Linked DNA regions of Homo sapiens: region 1 is linked to region 2. Evidence: fine-mapped expression QTL. A gene starts in region 2. The other region holds a variant in brackets. All regions are shown on one strand. Distances are from middle to middle.

What was found.
Region 1: its variant is fine-mapped to the expression of NR2C2 in whole blood (TOPMed, PIP above 0.99).

Annotation. Positions count from the first base shown.
Region 1 is chr3:14,999,455-15,010,504 of GRCh38, forward strand. NR2C2 (nuclear receptor subfamily 2 group C member 2) reads left to right here. Exons shown (of 14, transcript NM_001291694.2): 2 at 4,422-4,532. The coding sequence starts at 4,461. Among named protein-coding and RNA genes, the nearest start is that of FGD5-AS1, 57 kb to the left of the region's middle. The variant T/C (reference allele first, on the strand shown) is at 5,127.
Region 2 is chr3:14,943,680-14,954,388 of GRCh38, forward strand. It overlaps NR2C2 (nuclear receptor subfamily 2 group C member 2), which reads left to right and starts at 3,904. Exons shown (of 14, transcript NM_001291694.2): 1 at 3,904-4,227. FGD5-AS1 (FGD5 antisense RNA 1) reads right to left here and starts at 4,762. Exons shown (of 2, transcript NR_046251.1): 1 at 4,334-4,762; 2 at 1-2,475. RefSeq lists enhancers at 3,055-3,744, 4,433-5,120, 4,567-4,766, 5,121-5,808 and silencers at 3,527-3,956, 4,007-4,076, 4,097-4,516, 4,907-4,966.

The DNA.
Region 1 (11,050 bases), 56 kb after region 2:
CGCTCTAGCACAGGCAACAGAGTAAGAGATCTTGTCCCCCCCAAAAAAAAAGTTTCTAGTTTTAATGATTATTTTCTAATTTTTCTTGTGCTATTTTTGCTTTTGGTGTCATCTAAGAAACAATCACCTAATTCAAGTTCACGAAGATTTACACCTGTGTTTTCTGAGAGTTTTATAGTTTTAACTCTTACATTTAGATCTTTGATCCATTTTGATTTTTTTTTTTTGTAATAGTGCAAGGTAGGTGTCCAGATTTGTTCCCCTGCATTTGATTTCCACTTGTCCCATCACCATTTGTCGAAGACTGTTCTTTGCCTATTGAATTATCGTGGCACCTTTATCAAATTTGAACATATAGGTGAGGGTTTATTTCTGCATTCTCTGTTATATTCCATTGGTCTGTATGTCTTGTCTTTATGCCGGTACTGCAATTTTTTTAAGTTACAAATTGAGTTTATATTGCATATATTTACAGTACAAAGTGATGTTATGATCCGTGACTACAATGTGTAAAAATTAAATCAAGCTCATTAACATATCCATCACCTTAAATACTTATTTTTGCCATGAGAACATTTGAAATTTACTCTTAGCAATTTTGAAATGTACAATAGGCTATTATTAACTGTATTCGCCATGCTGTGCAATAGGTCTAAAAAAAAAGAAAAGTATTCCTCCTAAGATTTTGTACCTTTTGACCTGACTTTCATCTCCCCATTCCCCCTGCCCCTCAGCCTCTGTTAACTACCATTTTACTCTGGTTTTATGAGTTTGATTCTTTTAGATTCCACATTTAAGTAAGAACATGTGGTATTTGTCTTTCTGTGCCTGGCTTATTTCACTTACCATAATGTTCTCCAGTTCCATCCGTGTCATCAGAAATGACAGAATTTCCTTCTTTTTAAAGGCTGAATAGTATTCCATTGTGTGTATATACCACATTTTCTTTATTCATTCATCTATTGATGGACTTGTTGGTTGATTATGTAACTTGGCTATTGCAAACAGTGCTGCAGAGAACATGGGAGTGCAGACATCTCTTCAACAAACTGATTTCAAATCTTTTTGGGTAAACACCCAGAAGTGTGATTGCTGGATTCCACACAGTTTTAATTACCGTAGCTTTGTAAATAAGTTTTGAAATAAGGAAGTGTGAGACCTCCAACTTTGTTCTTTTTCAAGATTGTTTTGGATACTCTGGGTCCCATGCATTCCCATATGAATTTTAGGATCATTTTGTCAATTTATGCAAAAAAGCACCTGAAATTTTGATAGGGATTACATTGAATCTTTAGATCAATTTGGGGAATATCACCATCTTAACAATATTAAGTCACAAATGTCTTTCTATTTATTTAGGTTTTTTTTTTTTTTTTTTTTGACGGAGTCTTGCTCTGTTGCCAAGGCTGGAATGCAGTGGCACAATGTCGGCTCACTGCAAGCTCTGCCTCCCGGATTCACACCATTCTCCTGCCTCAGCCTCCTGAGTAGCTGGGACTACAGGCACCCGTCACCACGCCCGGCTAATTTTTTGTATTTTTAGTAGAGACAGGGTTTCACTGTGTTAGCCAGGGTGGTCTCAATCTCCTGACCTTGTGATGCACCTGCCTCGGCCTCCCAAAGTGCTGGGATTACAGGCGTGAGCCACCGTGCCCAGCCTATTTAGGTGTTTTAAATTTCTCATAGCAATATCTTATAGTTTTCAGTATTCAAATCTTGCATTTCTTTTGTTAAATTTATTTTATTTCTAAATATATTATCCTTTTTGATGCATGGTCAGTGGGATTGCTTCCTTAATTTCATTTTCAGATTGCTCATTGCTAATATATAAAAATACAATTGATTATTGTGTTTTTGTTTTGGGTTTTTTTTTTTTTTTTTTTTGGTTTTTTTTTTGGAGACAGAGTTTCACTCATGTCGCTCAGGCTGGAATGCAATGGCGTGATCTTGGCTCACTGCAACCTCCGCCTCCTGGGTTCAAGCAATTCTCCTGTCTCAGCCTCCTGAGTAGCTGGGATTACAGGCCCCGCCATCATACCCGGCTTATTTTTGTGTTTTTTAGTAGAGATGGGGTTTCACCATGTTGGCCAGGCTGGTCCTGAACTCCTGACCTCAGGTAATCCGCCTGCCTTGGCCTCCCAAAGTGCTGGGATTACAGGTGTGAGCCACTGTGCCTGGCCTTGTTTTTTGTTTTTGAAAGTCTTGCCCAGGCTGTGTAGTGACACAATCATGGCTCACTGCAACCTAGAACAACTGGGCTCAAGCAATCCTCCCACCTTAACCTACTGAGTACCCGGGACTTACAGGCACGTACCACCACACACACCTGATTTTTTGATTTTTTTGTAGAGATGGGTCTTGCTTTGTTGTCCGGACTGGTCTTAAACTCCTGACCTCAAGTGATCCTCCTACCTCGGTCTCCCAAAGTGCCAAGGTTACAGGCTTGAGCCACTGCACCTGGCCAGTTTTTGTGTTTTGATCTTATATCCTGCAACCCTGAAACTCGTCTACTTGCTCTGATGGGTTTTTTGTGGATTCTGTGGGATTTTTTTCTATATGAGATCATGTTATTTGCAAACAGAGATAGTTTTCTTCCTTTCTATTCTGAATGTTTTTATTCTTTTTCTTTCCTAATTGCCCTGGCTAGAACCCCTAGTGCAATGTTGAGGTAGAGAGAATGGACATCCTCATCTTATTCTTAACCTTAGAAGGAAAGCTTTTAGTCTTTTACCGCTAAGTATACTGTATAGCTGTGAGTATTTTATAGAGACCCTTTATCAGATTGAGAACTTTCCTTTTATATCTCGTTTATTGAGTGTTTTTTTCATGAAATGTTGTTAGATTTTGTCAAATGCTTTTTCGCCATCAATTGAAATAATTATGTGGCTTCTGTCCTTTATTCCTTTAATGCAATGTATAGAACTGTTTGATTTTCATATTTGAACAAGCTTGCTTTCCTGGGATGAACCCCAGTTATTCGTGGTGTATAATCCTTTATATACCACTGGATTTGGTTTGCTAGAGTTTTGTAGAGGATTGTTTGTGTTTCTATTCATAAGAGATATTGGTCTGTAGTTTTCTTTTCCTGTGATGTCTTTGGTTTCAGTATCAGGTAATATTGGCCTCACAGAATTGGGAAGTGTTTTCTTCTAATTTTAGGAAGAGTTTTTTGTGAAGTGTTCACAATATACTTTTTTTTTTTTTTTTTTTTTTTTTTTTTTGAGACAAAGTTTCACTCTTGTTGCCCAGGGTGGAGTACAATAGCATGATCTTGGCTCACTGCAACCTCCGCCTCCCGGGTTCAAGCGATTCTCCTGCCTCAGCCTCCCTAGTAGCTGGGATTACAGGCACGGGCCACCATGCCTGGCTAATTTTGTATTTTTAGTAGAGACAGGGTTTTACCATGTTGGTCAGGCTTGTCTCTAACTCCTGACCTCAAGTGATCCACCCACCTCGGCCTCCCAAAGTGCTGGGATTACAGGCGTGAGCTACCGCCGCCGACCCACAATACACTTTTTTTTTTTTCTGTCACCCAGGCTGGAGTGCAGTGGCACAATCTCCGCTTACTGCAGCCTCCACCTCCCTGGTTCAAGCGATTCTCCTGCCTCAGCCACACGAGTAGCTGGGATTACAGGTGCGCACCATCGTGCCTGGCTAATTTTTTTTTTTTTTTTTAATGTAGAGATGGAGTTTTACCATTTTGGCCAGCTGGTCTCGAACTCCTGACCTCAAGTGATCTGCCCACCTTGGCCTCCCGAATGCTGGGATTATAGGTGTGAGCCAGCACACCCAGCCACAATACACTTTCTATCAAGAAAAAATATATCTGCCTGCTTCAGATACCCAGGTGACCACTCAGCACCTTGTACCTTGCCTTTGGGATAGGTATTGACTAAATTTCAGACCCTGTGGTCCTGACAGGCTTTTCCCAGCTCCATCCCATTGGGGCTGAGAAATTACCAGGACGCTTTTATAAGTACTAATCCCAGTAGGTTTCAGTGTAATGTTGGTTTTGTTTGTCATCCCCTGCTGTGTTGTGAGAGCCTTTCTCGGGAAACCATATTAAAGGAATGTTTTACAGGTGGCTTTGGAGACAGGGATAACATTCAAAGATCATCTTTAAAATGTTGTTTTGGTAGGTTTTTACTTTATTAAAGTGTGCAGAGCACAACTGCAAATTCCTTTGGTTTCTTCTTACATTTTCAACATTTGAAACAGCTGTTTTAAGATTGTATTTTCCTGGGGGGCATCCTGTAGCAACATCTCATTGATTGCTTTGTCATCATCCTTCTGGGTCCATACCTCAGAACCATACAAGTTCATCACTCCAGGCCACAGTGAAAGCAAGAGGCGTGGTCTTCAGGCCACCTCTGGGCATCATTCTGAACCCCCTTGTGATCCAGCCCACTTCTCACCCACAGGTAACACGTACACAGACCTCTCGGCCGGAATCTCCAGGGATGACCAGCCCCTCCCCACGCATCCAGATAATCTCCACCGACTCTGCTGTAGCCTCACCTCAGCGCATTCAGGTACCTGCAACCTGCCAATGGCAACCCTGCCTTTCCAGAAGAACTCTTTCCAAAAACAAACCTTCCTAAGGGTTTCACTAAAGAGTTGTGCCTTTTGGGCATGAAATACAGTACAACTTCATCAATTCTTTAAAAAAAATAAAGAAAAAATGCTTACATTTATTTAACCAACTTACATTTAAAGCAAAAGCCTAAACTGTTGTTTCAAACCATTGAGATAAAGTACCATTTTATTACTTATTTGCTTCTAAATTGAGAGGCAGTATGTCTTAGTACTGTAATTAAGAGCAAGGGCCCCTACTTGAAGTCAAATCCAGTGCCCCACTTAGCTTTGTTGACCTTGGTCAATTAACTTTTTAATGCCTCACTTTCTTCATTTGGAAAATAGACATAATAGTAGTATTTGCCTCACGAAGTTATTATGAAGAATCAAAGGGATATTGCTTATAAAGTGCTTAGAATGGTACCTGGCACATAATAATGTTCAATATTTACTAATTATATAATAACTTATTACTAATATTGTTATTAACTAATCGATATTCACTTATGGGAAGTTGTCTTCCCTAGGGCTCTGAACCTGCCTCTGGCCCA[T/C]TGAGTGTTTTCACATCTTTGAACAAAGAGAAGGTAGGTGTATCAAGCTTGAAGGCAAAAAGCTGGGAGGAAGGGATAATATATTGATGACAAAGATTTATTGTTATCTCAACAAGCTGAATCAAAAAGCCAATTATAACGGTTGATTTCTCTGTTTTTCTTCTTGCAGTTTTATCAGTTTTTTTGGCTCACTTTGATGCTCTGTTGTTAGTTGCATATATGTTTTATATTGTTATGTCTTTTTGGAGAATTAACCCTTTCTTGATCTTAGCCAAAAGGTCGAGAAGCGATGGAGAATTAACCCCTTTCTTGCTTGCTTTCTTGGTTGCTTGCTTTCTTTTTATTTATTTATTTTTGAGACAGAGTCTTGCTATGTTGCCCAGGCTGGTCTTGAACTCCTGACCTCAAGTGATACTCCTGCCTCAGCTTCCCAAAGTGCTGGGATTACAGGCATGAGCCACCATGCCCAGCCACCCCTTTCTTATTATGTACCATTTCCCTTTATGTTTATTTTCCTTGTTCTGAAGTCTGCTTTGTCTGAAATTACTATAGTTTTCTTTTTATTAGTGTTAGTTGCTAGCATGGTATAACTTTCTCTATGTTTTGACATTTTTTCTTTTTTTTGAGACAGGGTCTTGCTCTGTCACCCAGGCTGGAGTGCAATGGCGTGAACACAGCTCACTGCAGCCTCTACCTCAGAGGCTCAAGCCATCCTCCCATCTACGCCTCCCAAGTAGCTGGGACTACAGGTGCATACCACCATGCCTGGATACACACACGCATAATGCTTTTTTTTTTTTTTTTTTTTTTTTTATAAATAGGGATGGGGTTTCACCATGTTGCCAAGGTGGGTCTCAAACTCCTGAGCTCAAGCAATCCACCTGCCTCAGCCTCCCAAAGTGCTGGGACTACAGGTGTGAGCCAGCGTGCGTGGCCAACTTTTTTTTTTTTTTTTTTTTAGGAGAATCTTGCTCTGTTGCCCAGGCTGGAGTGCATTTACTATTCACAGACAGGATCATAGGGCACTACAACCTCAAACTCCTGAGCCCAAGCTGTCCTTTTGCCTCAGCCTCCCAAGTAGTTGGGACTACAAATGTGCACCACTGTCAGCTTCTCCATCCCTTTATTTTGCATCTGTCTGTGTCTTTATTTATAAAATGGGTCTCCTGTAGGCAATATGTATTGGGGTCTTGATTTTTTCCCATTTTTTTCCTACTTCCTACATAATTTCATAAGGGTCTTGTTTTTTTACCCAGCTGACAATCTGTCTTTTCATTGGTGGATGTGGATCAATTCATATTTAAAGTGATTGTTGATATATTTGGATTAATATCCTCCATTTAGGCTGGGTACAGTGGCTCATACTTGTAATCCCAGCACTTAGGGAGGCTGAAGAAGGCTTATTACTTGAGCCCAGGAGTTCGAGACCAGCCTGGGCAACAAAGTGAGATTGTATCTCTACAAAAAAACTAAAAAATTAGCCAGACATGGTGATGCATTCCTGTAGTCCTAGCTACTTGGGAGGCTTTGGTGGGAGGATTGCTTGAGCCCAGGAGGTTGAGGCTGCAGTGAGCTGTGATCATGCCACTGCACTCCAGCCTGGGCCACAGAGAGACCCTGTCTCAAAAAAATAAAATAGTAATTCAGAACTATTCATATGAGCTAAAATTTATACTTAAGTAAAAGATTTATTTACCATTTTGCAAAGGTCAGGATTTATTTACCTTTTTGCAAACCTTTTTTAAAGCAGGTTCTTTTTACCCTTTTTATTTTTAGTCAATAATCTTTGCTATTATCTTTTGGTATGCTCTAATATACCCTGACCTATCTTATAAACTTTATATATATGCTATATGTAAATTCTATGTATACTATAGGAAATTGTGTATATGTAGGTATGTGAGTGGGCAGGTGGGTATGTGTGTGTATATAAATAGTATAGGAAATCTGAAGAGCTGGTTTTGGGTTGAGGGACAAACCCTTGAAGGGATTCTCATTGTACTCAGAAAGAAATCCAAACTCGCAGCAGGGCCGTTCCACCTCCCTCTCTAGGTTCCTGGGCCATGCTGGTTGTCTGTGGGCCTGATAGCAGTTCCCAAGAAACTGTTCCTCCCAGGGCTTTCCATATACCAGAACATTTCTCTTTGCTGGGAACACTAAACATTTATTTGGCTGCTGTCTCCTCAGCCTTGAATCTTTTTTTTTTTTTTTTTTAAAGGCATTTCGCTCTTGTCGCCCAGGCTGGAGTACAGTGGCACAGTGTTGGCTCACTGCAACTTCTGCCTCCCAGGTTCAAGCAATTCTTCTGCCTCAGCCTCCCAAATAGCTGGGATTACAGACATGCGCCACCACGCCAGGCTAATTTTGTATTTTCAGTAGAGACAGAGTTTCACCATGTTGGCCAGGCTGGTCTCGAACTCCTGACCTCAGCTGATCAGCCTGCCTCGGCCTCCCAAAGTGCTGGGATTACAGGCGCGAGCCACTGTGCCACCCAGCCCAAATCTCATCTTAAATGTCACCTTGTCACAGAGGTTTTCCCTGACCTCTCTTTTTTTTTTTTTTTTTGAGGCGGAGTCTCGCTCTGTCGCCCAGGCTGGAGTGTAGTGGCGCGATCTTGGCTCACTGCAACCTCCGCCTCCCGGGTTCATGCCATTCTCCTGCCTCAGCCTGCCGAGTAGCTGGGAATACAGGTGCTCGCCACCACACCTGGCTAAATTTTTATATTTTTAGTAGGGACGGGGTTTCACCATGTTAGACAGGATGGTCTCGGTCTCCTGACCTTATGATCCGCCTGCCTCGGCCTCCCAAAATTCTGGGATTACAGGCATGAGCCACCGTGCCCAGCCCCCTGACCTCTCTTTTTAAAGTTAAGTACTTTTGTTATTCAGGGTTACCCCAACCTGATCTTTTCCCTCATAACATGTACCATAAATTGAAATTGTTTACTGACTGGTTTGTTTCCTTGTGTATTGCCAGTCTCTTCCATTGAACTAAAAGTTTCATGAGGGCAGGAGCCATCTTCATATGCCACTGTCTAACACAGTGTCTGACAGAGTAGCCCCTCAGTAAATATTTTAGGAATGAATGAAAGAATGAGTAAGCCATGGTAAAAAGTCTTGACTTTTTCCTCAGGAGCGATTTGATAAGATGAAAGGGATAAGACAAGACTGAGTGAGGAAAGGAGTATGTGAGAGCTTAGAGGGAAGAAATACTTTACCAAGGTCCTGTCATGTTCTGGGCAGTGTACCAAACAGTTTCACACACATCGTATCATTTCACTTTCCTAGTCATCCTTTTTCATAGATATATAAATGGAGCTCAAGGGCTTATGTAACTGCTCCAAGTTGACACAGCTGGGAAGTAGAAGAGCAAGCATTCCTATTCATGTCTGTAGCTACCAAGCCCTTTCTCGGGTGTTTACAGTGAAAGAGGTGGCAAGGTGGATAGGGATAAACTGGAGAGGCTACCTCATCTAAAGAGGTAGCCAACCCACACCCGCTCCAGCCACCTGGCACCATGGGGAGAACTTGAGCCCAGGATGACCTGAGCTTCCAGTTTGTCAAGAGAACTATAAATTTGATTTTGATTATGGGAAATACTCAATTTTTAGATGTTAGCAAACAGTTTTTTTGTTTGTTTGTTTTTTTTTTTAAATTAGGGGGCTGAGTGCAGTGGCTCACACCTGTGATCCCAGCACTTTGGAGGCCGATGTAGGTGGATCGCTTGATCTCAGGAGTTCAAGACCAGCCTGGGCAACCTAGTGAGACGTCATCTCTATAAAAAATACAAAAATTAGCCAGGCGTGCTGGCACGAGCCTGTAGTCCCAGTTACTCAGGAGACTGAGATGGGAGGATCACTTGAGGCTGAGAGGTGGAGGTTGTAAAGAGCCAACATCGTGCTGCTGCACTCCAGCCTGGGTGACAGAATAAGACCTGGTCTCAAGAAAAAAAAAAAACAAAAACTTTGGGTACTCAAACAAAAGTTATCCAGTGGCTGGTTTTTGCCTGCAGGCCATTCATTGGCAGGCTCTTCTTTGCAACAGAGATGTTGAACTGGCTGGAACAGAGTGGGTAACATGGGGGAGAATGGTGGTGTATGAGATCATTCCAGGGTCCTTTGGGATTAGAACTAGAGAGGACCTTAGCTTAGTAAAGTCAGTTCTGCTATAATGTGATGTGTGTTCCTGAAAATTCCCACACTTTGCCAAATTGTGTGATGAAAACCACAGGACTGATTGGAAAAAATGAAATTAGTGACACTCAAAAACTTTGTCAGTAACGTATTAAAAAACAGATAGTGAATCTAATAAAACCTGCAAGTGGTTAAATACATAGTGACTATAATAAATATGGTACTTGGTCGGGCGCGGCGGCTAGTGCCTATAATCCCAGCACTTTGGGAGGCCGAGGTGGACGGATCACCTGAGGTTGGGAGTTTGAGACCAGCCTGACCAACATGGAGAAATCCCATCTCTACTAAAAATACAAAAAATTAGCGGGGCATGGTGACGCATACCTGTAATCCCAGCTACTCGGGAGGCTGAGGCAGGAGAATGACTTGAACCTGGGAGGCGGAGGTTGCAGTGAGCCAAGATCGTGCCATTGCACTCCAGCCTGGGCAACAAGAGCGAAACTCCGTCTCAAAAATAAATAAGTAAATACGGCACTTTACCTAGAAAAAGCCTTGTAGATTCTTTGTGGAGGTAGGTGTAGGGAGGATTGCGTCTCATGAGTTACTGTGAGTGGTGGACATGGGGTGACCTGAAATCACCAGATGGATTGAATGTGACTCATACCATGTGCACTGAGTATCCCTGCATGGATCACTTCACCTCAGTGTTTATTCATGGAAGAAACCATGCATAAACACAAAATTTGCATTATACTCAAATTATTTACTAACATATCAATCATGTTCAAACAAATTCATCTTTTCACAACAAGCATTATGGCAGCTCTGAGTGTATAGGTAGGCTATTGAGGGCCTTAAAAATCACAGAAAACAACACATATCTTCTTAACGTTACTTCATTCCCCCCAGTTTGTTATAGTTTACAGACAGGAATTTAAGAACTTTTGTTCCAAGTAAAGAAATAAAATTTGCCTCTTGTATTAGTTTCCCAGGGCTGTCACAATAAATTACCACAAACTTAGTGGCTTAAAACAATAGAAATTTATTTTCCCAACCTTCTGGTGGCCAGAAGTCTGAAATCAAGGTGTCAGCAGGGCCATGCTCTCTTAAGGTTCTAGGAGAGTGTCCTTCCTTGCCTCTTCCTACCTTCTGGTGGGTGCCAGCAGTCCTTGGCATTCCTCGCTTGCTTGCAGCTGCATCACTCCAATCTCTGCCTCCATTGCCACATGGTCTTCTTATAAGGACACCAGTCATTGAATTAGGGCCCACCCTAATGCAGTATTACCTCATCTTATCCTAATTACATTTGCAAAGGCCCTACTTCCAAGTAAGGTACATTAATAGATACTGGGAATTATGGCTGGAATGTATCTTTTCAGGGGGTACAGTTCTATGCACAATACCTCTCCTCCACAGCCGACTTAAATTTTAATGAGCTTGGATATATCCTTGCAATTTGATGTGTCCTCTAGGTCATTAAATAGGAATCTATCTGTGTTTGTTAACAAGGTCTTGCCTAATGGTCACCCTTGTGTTCCAATAGGGTATTTGGGAGATTTTTTTTTCTGCCTGCATTTTTAGTTTTTTCATGGGCGTGATCTCTCTAAATGGAGGATACGGATGTCTTAGGAGGGTGAAGATAAAAAAAAAAAACCCAAAATTATAAGTAATTCATTGAATTTTTATAAGCGTGAGTCTTTGAGAAAAAAAGAAAAGAATAATCTAGCCAGGTGCATTGGTTCTCACCTGTAAACTCCTTGGGAGGCGAAGGCACGAGGATCACTTGAGCCTA
Region 2 (10,709 bases):
TTTCAAATTGATCAGTGGTTCAGGCCTGGAGTATGCATCAGAATTATCTGTGAAGCTTAGTGAAAGTGCTGATGCCAGAGCCCACCCAAAGCTTACTGCTTCAGAACCACTGGGGACCTGGCAGTTCTGATGTGCACGACTAGTCAAGAATCCTTTAAAGGCTGATAAAGCAATCTTGAAATCACTGTCAATGCAAAAGTGGATGTTCCTCATTAATAAGAACTCAAAAAATAAAGTACAGCTAGTATAAGACTTGTTTTTTGTGCCTATAAAACCCAAGTGTTAGCTACTTTCTAACTATAAAATTCTATCCAAAAAGACTTGCAGTCAAAACACCGAGCCAAAAAACAAAAAAGGCACCAAAGCAGTGCCGACTTCAATGTGCAAAGGCCTTTTACGTGCTGATATTGTAAGCAATCTGTGTGCATGTGTACATATGCATCTGTTTTCAGGGAAAGAAAAGCTGTTAAAGCCAATTAAGGTTATGAATTCTTGCTACTACTTTAATATTAAACCTTTAAGTGAAAATTTATTGAACACTATTACAAATGTGGCAAACTGACATAGCTGGTTTACTGCACAAACTTTAATGTCAAAGGGATTAGATCAGAGCTCCAGTCTCACTTACTGGGCCTATAACATTGTGCAGGGCACTTATCTCACCTCAGGAAAATGGAAGTAACTGCTTCATTTTACAGAGGTATTAAATGAAAGAAATGAGAAAACTATAAACCAACATTGAAGCCTGAATTATTGCTTAGTATTTAAAGTCTAGTACAATTGCAATGTTTTTAATAAAAAAACTCATTGATAGGTGTATTTTTACAGTGTATCTAAAAGCAGCATTTAACATTAAAAACTTAGTATTTAAAAGAGTACACAACCAGGCAGGGTGTGGTGGCTCACGCCTGTAATCCTAACACTTTGGGAGGCCAAGATGGGAGGATCACTTGAGGCCAGGAGTTCGAGACCAGCCTGGTCAACACAGCGAGACCCCAACTTTTTTTTTTTTTGAGACAGTTTCGCTCATCGCCCAGGCTGGAGTGCAATGGTGTGATCTCGGCTCACTGCAACCTCTGCCTCCCGAGTTCAAATGATTCTCCTGTCGCAGCCTCATGAAGTAGCTGGAATTAGATGCCCGCCACCCCGCCTAGCTAATTTTTTTGTATTTTTAGTAGAGATGGGGTTTTACCATGTTAGTCAGGCTGGTCTTGAACTCCTGACCTCAGGTGATCCACCCACCTCACCTTCCCAAAATGCTGGGATTACAGGCATGAGCCACCATGCCCGGCCAATGCCATCTATTAAAAAAACAAAGAAAAAGAGTACACAACCACAAAGCACTGGGCCAAATGCATTGTTTCCATGTTTGCAAGGATTTACCATAGAAATATTAGGTTGATGCAAAAATTAAATTTCCAGACTGCGAATTTTAAATCATTGTAACTACGCTAAAACATATTCTATTAATCAAAACAGGAACCATTACAATCAACACATTTTTGCCAATGAGAAATGTTTGTTTATTCCTGTAGCATAAAAATCCGTGCTTCAGGATTTGACGAACTCTTGGAAAGCATTTTCTGCACCATGCTGAAGTGTTTTCCCTGCAAAAAGTTGTCAAGATGCTAGCAGAAGTGGTAGTCAGTTGGCGAAAGGTCAGGTGAATATGGTGGATGAGGCAAAACTTTGTAGCCCAATTCCTTCAACTTTTGAAGCACTGGTTGTGCGACACGCAGTCAGGTGTTGTCGTGGAGAAGAATTGGGCCCTTTCTGTTGACCAATGCAGGCAGCAGGTATTGCAGTTTTCGGTGCATCTTACCAATTTGCTGAGCATACTTCTCAGATGTAATGGTTTCACCAGGATTCAGAAAACTGTAGTGGATCAGATGGGCAGCAGACCACCGAACAGTGACCATGACCTTTTTTTTGGTGCAAGTTTGGCTTTGGGAACTGCTTTGGAGCTGCCTCTTGGTCCAACCACTGAGCTGGTTGTTGTATAAAATTCACTTTTCATTACATGTCACAATCCGATTGAGAAATGGTTTGTTGTTGCGTAGCATAAAAGAAGACTACACTTCAAAACGATAGTTTTGATTTCCGCTCAGCTCATGAGGCACCCACTTATCAAGCTTTTTCACCTTTCCAATTTGCTTCGAATGCTGAACGACCCTAATGACCGTAGAATAGTCAACGCTGAGTTCTTCTGTAATTTTTCATGTAGTTCAATGATTGCTCTCAATTGGTCGTTGTCAACTTCCCATGGCCCATATCACGTTCCTCATCTTCAAGGCTCTCTTCCTTGCAAAACTTCTTAAGCCACCACTGCACTGTATGTTTGTTAGCAGTTCCTGGGCCAAATGTGTTACTGATGTTTTGAGTTGTCTTCGCTGCTTTATGAACCATTTTGAACTCGAATAAGAAAACTGCTCCAAATTTGCTTTTTATCTAACATCATTAGACAAAAAGCATATTCTAAAATAAACAGCAATAAGTCATTAGCAAAAAAATAAAGTGAGAAATGTGCATTAAAATGATCCACATTTATTTAAGAATGTATTCCAATATCAAACAGCAAATTTCAAAAATGCAAAAACGCAATTGCTTTTGCCTCTCAGGTACATCACTTGACCTTTCTAGTTCTCACCCACTTCACCCCTAAAATCGGAAAATCTTTCTGCAAGAAAAAAATTTGACCACATTCCCTTAAGGCCTCTTCCAATTTCAAGAGCTGTGCTTTACCATGACAAAACGAACCTAGCTCTTTTCCCAATTTTGCAACGTCAGAAAAAGGAGGAAGGGGAAATAGCTGTGTTTAAAACATTTTTTACCAAATAGAAATATTATAAGATTATGGAAAAAAAAATACTAAATGTTGGAGTCATCCTGATAAAAACCCAAATGGATACTGTGTGGGAAAAAAAGTTAACCCATCCATTCTGGAGTCAATATTTATTCTTAATAAGCAAGAAAACTGAAGAAAAAAAATCAGTATAAGATCTACAGCCTGTAGCCTAAACACTTCAGGGCATTTAGGATAAATAAGCGCCTGCACCTTCCCAGGCAAGTCAAAACCACGACATAAAACAGAGAAATATGTAAGGAAAACCTACAGCCCAAGAGTTTAAGAGCAAGACAGGCCAATTTCTTCAAATAAATTTAAGCAATGCTGCTAAAAGCTGCTTTACACATCCCTATTACCATGTACTACTTCCAAATTTCGAGGAGGAGGGGCATGGAATTACACAAGATCTGGATCGTATGTTTACTAAGAAACCAAAAATTATAGGTTCTGGGGCGTTTCAACATTTCACCTGAGATGGCCAGAACGGGCGCATCTTTAGACCTTTAAAACCTAAATTAAAAACTATCAGTACCGAGGAAGGGCCGAAGAGCTCAATACCCACCCAATACAACCCCCACTTCCGACCTACAGACGCTCTGCTGAGCGGCTGGGAGAATCCGTCGCGCCAGTCAGGGCCCGGCTTCTTCCAACAACAGACACTTTGCGAGCCTTCCAGAAGCCTTGGCTAAGCGAGAAGGCAGGGTGGAGGCCGCCACTGCGAGGACGGTCCCCACCCAGCTGCGAGGAGCTCGCGGTTCCCCAGAGGGGCGGGCCTGCGTCCGGGTAACCGTGCGCGACGTCCACGAGTTTTTAGGACGACCAGCCCTTCAGCCTCTAGGCCCCGACGCCTGCGCCATTTAAGCCACATATCCGCCCGCCCGGCCGCGGCCAAGGCCGGCGGCAGCTACGTAGCCGCCGCCGCCCGGGGCCCCACAGCCCACGGGCCGGATGGACCGAGCGCCGGCTGCGGCGTTCCGGTGCGCGCGCGCGCCTCAGCCAATCGCGTTCTCGCCCGCCCCCCGCCGCGGCGGCGAGGCTGGCGCTGGGAAGAGGAAGAAGAACATTCGCCCTCCTCCTACCAGCGCGCGGGCGGCGGCGGCGGCGGCACCGGGGTCACGAACTCTGACCTTTCACTGACAAAAACAATAACAAACCCCCCCTTCTCCGCGACCCCGGCGGCGCCCCCGGGCCCGTCCCCGCCACCCCGCTCCCACCTCGGCGTCTCGTCTCTCGCCCGCTGCCCCGCGAGCCCGCGGCCCCCGGGCTCCCGCCATCCGCCGACACCGGGAGCCCGGGCTCCCCGCGCCCTGCCCTCCGCGCCGGGGGCCGCCCGCCGCAGACACGGGACCCGCTTCGAGGCCGCTTTGGCGCCAAATCCTGAGGTAAAATTGAAAGAGGGTCGGGCGGGCTCGGGCCGGCGGCGGAGGGGGCGGGCCTGGCGCGCGGACATGGAGGCGCCGCGGCGGCGGCTGAACCCGACCCTTTTACCTTTGCCACGGGGTGGCGGCGGCGGCGCCCGGCGCTTTGCATAGTGGGCCGGGCCGCTCCCCTCCCCTCCCCGCCCGCGGCCGGGCGAAGCGAGCGGGTTCCCCCTGACCGGCCCGGCCGGCGCAAGGGTGGGGGTGGAGGGGGAATGGCCGCGGCCCCGCCTTATAGTTGGCCCTCCGCCAGCGCCGCCATTTTGTTCTCGACGGAGATGGCTCCGGCTGGGCGGGCTCCCTTCCTCCTTATCCTCCTCCTCCTCCCGCCTGCAGTCCCTTCTTCCTTCTCTGCCGGGATTTTCACCCCTCCGCTTCTAGTCCGCCTTTGGCGGCCGTCGCAGCCCAACCGCCGTTTTTTCTGAAGGGGAGGGTAAAAGAAAAGGAGGAAGGCGGGTGCGAGGCGCGACCTCGTGAGCGACGGATGGGCTGGCTAATTGGCGCCCAGATAGGAGGGCCGGGGCCTGTGGCACCGCCCCCCTAAGCTTTGCTGATTGGCTGAGGCGGAAGAGGGTGGTCCTTATGGGGCGCGGGAGCCCTGGCGGGGCGGGAGTAGAGGCCGGGGCGAAGAGTGGGGCCGGGTCGGCGGGGGCGGGGCCGGGGGCGGGGCGCGAGGGGCGCGGCCGGGTGGAGAGGCCGGCGCCTGGTCTTGGGTCAGCAGGTGGGCTGCTTCCCTCCGCCTGGAACGCGTCTCGAATGAGTACTGAGGAACAATAGTAATAAAGGTGATGAAGCATTTCGAGTCCACGATGCGCTCTCGTGGGAAGAGGTTTTCGGAACCAGGACACTTTTCAGGGCTCCTGCTCGTTATTTCGCAGCGGCCTTGGCGAATCCCCTAATGAGGCTCAATTTTATCGACTGTAAATGGGGGGCATGCGCATTCTTGCCAGGCCGGACCTCCCTTCTGAGCATTGTTTGTGGGGCTCTACTCAGAAAATGGAGGCAACGCTACTTTGCGAGCTTCAGAGTCACTTGAAAATGGTGTTATTGTTAAAAATGGGATTACAGCCACCAGGAGAGGCAAGCGTTAAGGGTATTTGGGGTTTGAGAGAGCACAATTCGGGAGTGATTCTCTTCTCATTCGTTCGCTGAATACATGTTGACTTAGTTTTTTAGGCACTGGGGACACATCTGGAGAACCAGCTGTACAAGACCCCTGCCCTCACTAGAGTTGGGGGCTGGGGGGTGAATAGACAAATAATTCCAGAGAGTCATAAGTTCTGTGAAAGAAAAGAAGCCAAATGACCTGCTGAAGAAGACCTGAGGCGTTAATTTAGATGGAATGGTCAGGGTGGCCTCTCTGAGTAAGTGATGTTTGAACAGAGGAACCCAAGGGAGGAATGGCATTCCAGACAGGACATCCCGTGTAACGGCCCTGGAGGAAGAGCATTTGATGTGATCGAGAACTGGCTGCTTGTGGCTGGAGAGTTGGTTGGAACTAGTAATTGTCCATTATCCCACTTTGTTTCCAAGCCAAAGGCTGTGAAATATAGCAACGGTAGTGAGGAACAAATCTTCAATGTAATAAGAAAGTCGAGGAAAATACAGCCTTCATATGAATTACTGATGAATACATGACTTGGGAGGAGGGCCTCAGAAACTCACTTTACTTCCAGATTCAAATCCTTCGTCAGCCTCTTATATACATTTTCAGTTCATCAAGTATTTCCTGAGTGCTACGAATACTCCAGGCACTATGTGCTAGGCTGGGAATACAAAAAAGTAAGACACTGGTCCTCAAACATGTGAATATGATTTATTTATTTATTTATTTATTTTTTGAGACCAAGGTCTCACTCTGTCGCCCAGGCTGGAGTTGAATATAATTCTCTGTGTGTGAGTTCTCTCTTTCTCTCTCTCGAGATAGAGATATTTATACACATACATACACAGACATAAAATGTTTTAGTGTTGTGGTTAGCAACTCCCCAACTTTTACTAGCAGTGTGATTTTGTGTAAGCTACCTTTCCTAGCCTCACTGTCCTCATCTGGACAATAATAGAGCCTTCCTTCCTGAACTGAAGATTAGATGAGTTAATGTAAATAATAGAGCTTAGAAAAGTGCCTGACATGTAGCAAATACTGTGTAAATAGAGTTATTGTTGTCATTATGAACTACTGGTATAGACATTGGACTAATTAAGTGATATAAATAATGAAATTTTTATGCAGTGTGGTGTAGGGGCAAAAACAATAGATTCGAACACCGAGATTCTAGTTTTGGCTCTGTGCTTGCAGCTAGTTACATGGCATCCAGGACAAAAGTTTGGAAAACAAAATAATGGAACTAAATAGTACTAACCAAAGTATAGGGTGCTTTATGATTTACAGAACTCTCTTACAGGCAGTATGTTGTTCAGGCGCCACTAGAACCCACGTAATGGCAGAGGCTTCCTGTTCCATGTTTAAAAACCTTTCCAAGGCTTTTCATTATTTTCTTATCTGTGGTACCCCTAGCTTCCTGTGCTCTAGACACACTGGCCTACCTTCAACTTCCTTGACCAGTGTAGCTTACAGTGTAAGCTTACCCCCCACCCCCACCCTACCTCAGATATTGGCTCAAGCATCACTTCTTCAGGGAAGTCCTAATTCCCATTGCCAGTCTAAATCAGATTCTTTTTATTCTTTTCTTTATAATCTTTATCTCACTTTATAATTACACACTCTATTATGTGATTATTTGATTAATGTCTGTCCTTACCACACTGTAAGCTGTGAGAGCAGGAATACATTTTGTTTACCATTACTTATCCAGCACTTAGAAGAGTGCCTGGCACTATTTGTTGAATGAATTGTTGATAATTTATGATGTCACTGATAACTAAGTTGCTGTACATTGATGGATACCTTTTGTGTGAGCCTCTTTGGCAATTCAGATAGCACTGCCAGCAATAATAAGCCTGTTACGGTATTTGGTTGAATTTAGCAAGTGATTTCTGACAGATATGCCACTTTCTGGAGACATAAATATGGATAAAATGACCCATTTCAATAGTTTTTCCCACTCATTTTTTTATGATTGAATTACAAGTTTAAGTGCATGAAAGTTAATAAGTTCATATGTGAAGAAATAAATAGCCCAAACATAACTTATGTTATTTACTTTAGCTGAAGAAACGAAGCACTAAGCTACCATGATTTTCTTGAAATCAAATATTCTGATTTTTGTCTCACCATCACAGGGGATTGGAGAGAAGGAACAAGCCTCCAGTGGGTTCACAGGGAATTGGGAGTTGAAAGTCTCTGTAGCCATTAATTCGGGATATTTATCTTTCTAAAGATAAATTGATTCATTTAATGAAATTATTGAAAATCACCTTTTAATTGCTTTACCAAGGTTAAAAGCAAATTTTGTTAAGTATACATCAAGTTTCTACTCGAAAGTGTGGTAAATAAAACATTTGTATTAACTTATTTTATATTGTAAAACTTTTAAAATAAGATATTGTTATGGTATTTTAAAAATAATAATAGTTTAACTGTTTATTTTTGGGTTTTTTTTTCTGTCTTGCTCAAAGATTTTTGGTATCACTTGTTCAATTCCTTAAGCTAATTACTCAGGGTAACCAAAGAACTGCTAGTTTAGTAAAACAGCTATATGTTGTCTTACATCGTTAAGTTATTTATTGCTTTCAGTAGTTGTATTCACAGTGACTTTTAAGTTTTGTTTCGTGATCATTCTTTTATAGAAAATCCCTGTGCGTAACAACCTCCTCACTTTATGAGGATGGCTGGAAGTTTTTTTTGTGTGTTTTTTTTTGTTTTTGGGAGTCTCGCTCTGTCACCCAGGCTGGAGTGCAGTGGTGCGATCTCGGCTCACTGCAAGCTCTGCCTCCTGGGTTCACGCCATTCTTCTGCCTCCGCCTCCCCAGTGGCTGGGACTACAGGTGCCCGCCACCACGCCTGGCTAATTTTTGGATTTTTAGTAGAGACGGTGTTTCACCATGTTAGCCAGGATGGTCTCAAACTCCTGACCTCGTGATCCGCCTGCCTCGGCCTCCCAAAGTGCTGGGATTACAGGTGTGAGCCACTGCGCCCAGCAACTGGGAAGTTTTTAGCATCTGTCTCCAAGGAGTAACATGGCAAGGGCAGTGCAGTGACAGAGCTTGGGCTATGAAGGCAGAAAGGCCTGGCTTCAGAACCTGGAGTTGGTAGCCTCTCTGAGGCTTATAATTCCCCATTTGTCAAACAGGGAGGTGGGAGCCAGCATTGAGATTGGGGCCAGGGATAGCGGATACTTGTTGTCTGAATGACTTTGAGAACAAGGGAGGTGAGTCTTTGTGGAGCAGCCCTGTCTTCAGCCGTGGCACTGAGCCACTGGTCTGTGTCTAGCTGCCTGAGTGTCTCCACATATCGAGGGCCCTCCGTTGGGATTTTTATTGTTGAGTTCTCTTACCTATAAGCCATACGCTCCTTTAGTCCCAAACCATCTCCTGTACAAGTATCATCTTAAAAAATACCACACGGGGGGAGTCCGTGAAGGAATCTTAGAATCTCAGAATTGGAAGTGGTCTAGACCCCAAGTCCAGCCTTGATGTAAGGATCCCCTGCTAGATTTTCGTTTACCTCTTTTTACTTTATTGCTAATTATGAGGGCCTTAAATGATGCCTTTTTTCTTCCCTGTGTGATCATCATCTTTAACTTAATGGATACATTTGTGCTCCTGTTACACATTGTAAAAGATATGTTCTTCCTTATTCGTTGGAGGTTTGCTTGCCTTCAACTTAATATGCCAGAGGCTGAGATTCTCTGTCATTCTCTCCCATCCTGCCACTCTTTCCCCATATCCCACTATTGCTACCCGAGGTAGCAGTCCTACTCCCCTTGCTCACTTCAGGTCCTGAGTGCTAGAGAGTAAAGCAGCAGGAGCTCTATACCAAAAGGAAGAACTGCCCAAGAACAACAGCTCAACTAGCACAGCTCAACAATGATGAGGAGTGGGAATGACTAGAGGGATGAAAGCCAGATCAGGGCATTGGCGTAGGCATTTGTTAAAGGTACAATAAATGCAGATGCAGACCCCTGGTACCTGGAAGTCTTAGAATAGAAGGATGGGAGGTGAATTGTTAAGGACAGAAAGGGAATAGGCTAGCTCAGACACTTAACTGTTTTTTCTGTGTTACCCTTGGACTCCAGTTGGCCTGTAATGATGAAAGTCAGCCTCAGAGGCAAGTGTGATTTTTTAGGGGCAATAAAAAGTACCTCCTTCACTGTAATAAGAGGCCTGAAGTCCTTTAATAGGAGGTGAAACTTTCTATTCCATAATTATTAACAGTTACCTCAAAGATTCTAATCCCTGAAATGTTAACATGTAGATGGAGAGGAATTTCATTCCAAGTGCCCAAGTGTAAAAGAATATTTCCCCCCTGTTTGCGTTAGTGAGAGGTGTGAGAAAAGGTCTTGGGGCCTGGAAAATGGGGTGACTGCTGCTGAAAAGTGAAGAGAAATGAGAGGCTGGTAGGGCTAGACTCAAGCCTGAAGGCTTCCTGGTTTTACAGGGAGCTGCTTTATTTACCTTTGTTGTTCATATGTTGATAAAAGCTATGCAGGGGAAAAAGTTTCCTACCTGACTGCCCACCCATGTTCCTTAAAAAGAAAGATTCACGTATGGCCAGGCGTGGTGGCTCACCCCTGTAATCCCAGCACTTTGGGAGGCCAAGGCAGGCGGATCATGAGGTCAGGAGTTCAAGACCAGCCTGGCCAACATAGTGAAACCCCATCTCTACTAACAATACAAAAAATTAGCTGGGCGTGGTGGCAGGCGCCTGTAATCCCAGCTACTCGGGAGGCTGAGGCAGGAGAATCACTTGAACCCGGGAGGTGGAGGCTGCAGTGAACCAAGATCACGCCACTGCACTCCAGCCTGGGCGACAGTGCGAGACTTCATCTCAAAAAAAAAAAAAAAAACAACTGAGGCTGGATGGCTCTTGAGAAGTTACACAATACTAGCGGGCTTCATGCTGCATTTCCCCCAGTGTATTTGTTGTATAGTGAATCTGATTAGGTATTATTTCTAGAACATTTTGGATATGTCATTTGTACCACACTCGTTCTTGTCCCCTGTCCCACCACTATGGTGTCTGTAATGATGCATCTTTTTATTAGGTTGATAAGATGACTAACCCTGGAATTGAAAAATCATTTTTTAATTGATTGCTTTACCAAGACTAAAAGCAGATGTCACAAAGTATATATCAGCTTTTAACTGGAAAGGCTAATAATTAGACTGTGTTGTTGACTTATTTAATATAATACAGATTTTTAAAAATAAAATAAATTTATAATATGTCTTTTCTAAAGAAATAAACAATGTACTTTCTCGAGAATAAAAATTAAAAATAGATAAAAGTAAAACAGTTAATTTTTAAAAATAGTAAAATTTTC